Linked DNA regions of Homo sapiens: region 1 is linked to region 2. Evidence: fine-mapped expression QTL. A gene starts in region 2. The other region holds a variant in brackets. All regions are shown on one strand. Distances are from middle to middle.

Region 1 (2,931 bases), 22 kb before region 2:
CTCAAATATCTAATGCATTAAGGCATACGGGGCTTAAAACCTAGATGATGGTTTGATAGGTGCAGCAAAGCACCATGGCACATGTATACCTATGTAACAATCCTGCACATTCAGCACATGTATCCCAGAACTTAAAAAAAAAAAAAGCCATAAGTCTGGTCCCAAAGGCGCTGGAGCCACACGTGACAGAAATGGCGCAGACAATTGTTGCAGGCGTGTTCATCACAACGGCAGGTTCCACGTCTAACGGCACGAGGCTCTCTGCCAGTGACCTGACCAATGGTGCGGATGAAATGCTGGCCACAAGCTCCAACAGGTCTCAGTACAGCATCTCCAGGGTGAAGACCCCGGTGTCCCAGGTTGGGGAGGATGAGGAGGACTACGATTTCGACGAGGACAACTGACTTCCTCTCCACTTCAATTTCAGCTTCAGGAAAATGTTTAGGAAAAGAAACTTCTTTTTTTAATGTGGGTTTTCTGTTTCCTTTTGGCCTACTCCCAAGAATATATTGGTAAGCTATTGAATTTAGATATGCACCTCCGATAAGCAAGGATTGTTTCCCATAGAATTAGGATGTGCTGTGGATGTGTGGTTTGATGCCAGTGTGCTAATGCAGAGCCTTCATATACTTTTTAGGATTTTGTGTTTCCGTTTTCTATTTTTCTTAAAATGCAGAGTTCATATTTGCCCCTTAAGAGTTTTTGCTGAGCTTGCTGAAGAAATTGTACTTCATCCACATAAATGCCCGCCTGTTGTGAATGGTGAGCACCAAATGCCCTTTATTTGCCATGAATTTGGACGGCACCCCCTGTTGGCGGATAGCTAGACTCTGCAGAGTTTTGTTTATTCAGTGGTGTGGTCTCTAGAGCCCCAAGCAAATAGCCGAATTCGACTTTCCAAACAATAGACACCATCAACCTTATCGACTTTATTTTCCCTTAAATTATATTGACAGTTGTGATTCCATCAAGTTTATATACTCTTTTTTTCTCCCCATTTTGCAGCAACAAATTGCAAAGTGCTTTTGTTTGTTTGTTTGTTTGTTTTTGTTTGGTTAAAGGTTATTGCCCACTGGTACAGCTACTGGTACACTGTCTGGAAAGCTCGGAATGGTTTATTGCTTATAGTAAAATTTGCCTGATTTCTTACAGGCTGCGTTTGGAAACCTTTTATTATATAGTTGCTTACATACTTAAAAGTCTTTCATTTAAAGACATACTGAAACAAATGTTGTACTTGTTTCTTAAGCATCTTCCTGTAATCTGTTATAAAATTGAAATTAAATATAGAGAATGTTTCGACAAAAAATAATGAAAAAAATAAAGTGGTCTTCTAATGCAGTCGATTCTTATGATTTTGTCACTTTCCAAATGACCATGCCTCCATTCAAAATAATGATATAGGAATACGTTTTGATAAAAATGGAAAAACAAGTAAAACCTAATAATTCTAATGATAGGATTAATTACATGAGTTCTAGAGTATTTTAAAATAGATAACTTTGTTGTTTGTCTACTC[A/G]CTGCCACAGCCAGATTGAGAACTGTGAAGTTGTCAGCCTCTGTTCCAACTGATAGTGAAGGTTCGAAGATGGCACCATTGGGCTGCAGGAAAGAGACTGTGTTGTCCTCAGCGTCCTGGGTTACATTTTCCTTGGCTAGAAAACGAACTCTAAAGAAATAGCAGTAAACAAAATTCAAAACATTTGTCATATGTGAACATTAGATCTCAAATGTCATTCATTCAACAAATGATTTTTGAACACACAGAATATGCCAGATAGATAGTATGTAAGCAATGGTGTTAAAATGAGAAATCAGCCAGGGTCTCTAGCAAACTAACGAGAAGGGGTCTTAAACTGGCAAACTGGAAATTAAAATAGTGAGAGAGAAGGAATATTGTTATAATGGAGACTCCATGGGAAAACACAAAACAGATCCAGATCCAGATTTAGAATGGTCAGGGTAGGGGTGAGGGTTAAAACACTTTTTAGTACAAGTCTACATAAATGGTCTATGTAACAAATACAAGTTTAGTTAGGTAAAGTACGGCAGATGGTAGCATGCATAAGAACGAACATAATATGTTTTGGGAAATGCAGATATTTGAGTGTGGTTGGATTACAGAGTAAGAGGTGAGGAGAGTAGTGGAAATAAAGTTATTGAAACAAGTAAGATCTCAAACATAAAAGAGTTGCATCTAATACTCAAACGAGACTTTATCCTGAGGATAAGGAGGAAAAAGTACAGGGGCTTCAGCAGGGGAATATTTAGAGCACATTTTCTTATATTAGAAAGAATGATCAAAATACAAGGCCTATCCAGCACTGCTTTTTCCCTTTTTCAGGACTTCTTTAATGAGAATTAGAGATAAGAATATAATTTCCATTTTTAAGGGTTATAGACTAACTTCCCCAGCCCCTCAAGTATATTGAATACTTTTGCTAGTTCTAATCTCCTGACTCTAACATATCTAGGCTGCAAAGTACCAACTACATTTTAGGAACGCGGTGAAGGGTGATTATTACAGGAAAAATACATTTCACAAGTGGAAGATATTCACTGAGAAGAAATAAGATATATATCATAATTGCACTGTCATATTTGAATGCCTGTGAAGTGAGTAGATAGCCAAGGTAAAGACTTAAGCAATTGGACTGAATTTTTTAAAAACCCATTTTATTCCATTATAATAAAAATGTAAATTCCTACAGGGTAGGGGTTTATGAGTGTTTTGTATCTCTAAGCATCATGCCTGGTATATAATGAGTTCTCAGTAAATGTATTTACTAAACAAATGTCTCAGATTCTTTAAAAAGAGGATTCAAAGTTGGCTAGAAATATATTTTTAATATAATTTTATTAAAACTACTATTCTTGAAGTACTGCAGACACACAAAGAATATAAAAATCTGAAACAGCACTCAGGACAAT
Region 2 (2,931 bases):
TATATTTTACAAAAGTAGAAATGAGTATTTGCAAAATAGTTAGATTATAATGAAATGTGATCATATATGTATGGAATTAAAATATGCAAATGGAAAGACAGCTACTAGTTTAGAACAATGCTACTTGCAAGTTTCAGACACATCTTGGGCCAGTGAACAAAAACATCTTCTGATTAGATGCAAGGATACTTACAGAATTAAGTATCTGATAGTTACAGAATTATCTTAAACTTTCCTTTTCAGGAAACACACAGGAAATACACACACATGCAGGGTTCAAATGTGTTAAAGTAAACAAGGTTAAAAAAATTCCTTAAAAAAATAGGGTGGCAACTATAACTTCCAAGGTAAATTCCAAATTCAGTACACTCTGTGCAAGTACCTCCAGTTGTAATTAATATTCTTCCCAGGCTAACCCATTATCTGATGGTTCTCTGTTTGGTTTATTGTTCTGGTTCACTAATGAGTCTGGGAAATTAAATGATTTCTACTTTAGTTCTTATTTTCTTGTAAATTCCAAAGGACCACTGGACTTTCTATATAACAAACATTTTTAAATATTTCATTTTGGCTTCCTTGTGAACCAATATTTAAAGCAATATTTTTTAGCTTCAACACACATTACTGACTTCAAACCACACAGAAAAAGACTAAAAAGTACATGCAAATCTTTACAAAACAGGTTTCAATATGCTACTTGATGATTTCAGAAACTGGGATGTACTCTAGAGAATTTATGCCATTTACAGTTATTTATAATTTTAGTTAATGTATAATTAATTTGAGGCTTTTACTTAATTCCTCCAAATTGATTTCTCCTTTACTTCAACTTGGCATCATCATCTAATAATTCAGTACTATTTGTAATAAGCTTCCTGAATCGAAAAAAAATTAACTTTATTTTTATTCTACTAATTTACACTAATTAAATTTCAGATTATTTAAAAGTAATATACTTTGCTATTCCCAGTAACAATGACAATATCTTTGTTCATTACAGAAAAGAACTTAAAAAGCACATATCCAAAATACACATTGCATTTGATCATGTAGAGCAAGTCAGGTATACCAAAAGTTGTGCAATTCAGATTGAAAATTAAACAAGCTAATGACTCTGTAAAGTAATAGTTAATAATTGCATATTAGACAACATGTTGACATAAGAGCTGTAAGTCATTTATAACATCTAACCTCATTATATTGGTCTGCAGTATAATGATCTTCATCATTTAAACATCATGTATAAATAGCCTAAGTATAAAATGAAAGTTTTATAATAATCCAAATTGGATTATAAATCACTTTAAATATTAACTTATACATACGACATGAAATGCCATTGGGTATGGTTTAAGCATAAAATATAGGAAGGTTGATAACTTGAAAATAATGCAAACCTGATTTTTAGATAAAGCCTAGTGACTAAGAAAACAGTTACTACCTTTTTTCCTGTCCTCCTATATAACTTCTTAGGAGTATTTATACAGTAGTGTCACCTCCCGTCATCTGGGTGATGGGAAAAATCCCTTAATCTTTTTTATTTAAAGAAAAATCATACAACTTACCTTTAAAATGGCTAAGAAGGATTTTTCAATCAAATGCTCCAACATTTGGACAATTCTTAATAGGATCAAATGGTATTCTGCAGGAAAGTCCTACACTGCAGTCCTCAGTACATAAATGCGTGAGAGTTTAAATATGCAACCACACCCCCTCCCCCCCCCAAAAAAAGAGAAGAGAAAGCACTCTACAGTGTCAGATCCCAGTGTGTGGTTTGTTGCCAGAGGAATTGAAAGAAAAAAAAAATCCCCCACACAGCACATTACTGATATGGCTAATAAGGGTCTATTTTTATGTTCTGGTGAAGACCCATTACCTATATCTGAGATATTCAGCATTTTTTTTTTTTTTGGCTATTTCCCATCCAAGTAAGTCAGAGGCCAGAAAAACAAAAGGAACTGACTTGCTGAGTTTCCCCTAACATATTCTCAGATGCTGAACTGAGACCGCTGGTGGAAATAGTAAATTTGGAAGAATAATCATATTCTCACTTCCCTGTCTTGACTGAGCTTGCGAAACTTATTTTATTAAGTTTAAATTTAATGTACTTTTTTATACAGCGTAATTCTGAAATACTGTGAGACTAATAATTCTGAAAACAATTGGAGACTGTCAATCAGCAAGGATGACAAACTGACTTAAAAAAAGGAAACAGCCTATTGTTCTAGCTGGAAGTTCTTAACTGTTTATCATTTTCTGTTAGTTTTGCAAAAATTTCATGATCACAGCACAGTGCTCCTACAAAAAATAAACTCTTTAAATTTCTTCAACCAAAATATGTCTAAGTAGAATTACTATTGAGGATAATCTTTAGTACTTAAGTCACTTTCAAAAAAAAAAAAAGCATTATGTTGATATTGAATCAAAATAGAAGGCCTTGCACTTTGGGGAAAGAACCTTCACTATCAAGACCCTGTTCTTATAAAGAAATTCTCAGAATCATACAGGAAAACCTTCACAGGGTTAACCTGGCATGTATTTGATAGGAGAGCTGGATAAATGCATTCAAACAACCTTAGAAGTAAAGTAACCTAAGAATACCAGACAGAAATATATTTAGTTCATTAGGTCATATTTAAACCAGTCCTTAAGTTAGAATGCTCGTGCTGTCCTTTTTGGGCATGTGAGGCACACAACGAATCCTTTCATTTGCAAGCAGTGCCATACAACTGAAAAAAAAAACCCCAAACACTCTTTTCTCCTCAAGAATTTTTTTTCCCCAGGGAAGTTTTTACTGACATATTTATTTAAAAAATAAGTCATAAAAATATTGTAAGTCTATTACTTTTTTTTCAAATCTCAGACCACTTAATTAGGATAAAGTAGAAATGACCATGTGCAATCTCTTTATAATTTATGCTTTCAGTTAGA

Evidence for each region. PIP is the estimated chance that this variant, and not a neighbour inherited with it, causes the effect.
Region 1: its variant is fine-mapped to the expression of CD36 in whole blood (TOPMed, PIP 0.97).

Annotation. Positions count from the first base shown.
Region 1 is chr7:80,659,801-80,662,731 of GRCh38, reverse strand. It overlaps CD36 (CD36 molecule (CD36 blood group)), which reads right to left. Exons shown (of 15, transcript NM_001001548.3): 5 at 1,522-1,669. Among named protein-coding and RNA genes, the nearest start is that of CD36, 23 kb to the right of the region's middle. The variant A/G (reference allele first, on the strand shown) is at 1,520.
Region 2 is chr7:80,637,381-80,640,311 of GRCh38, reverse strand. CD36 (CD36 molecule (CD36 blood group)) reads right to left here and starts at 1,670. Exons shown (of 15, transcript NM_001001548.3): 1 at 1,566-1,670.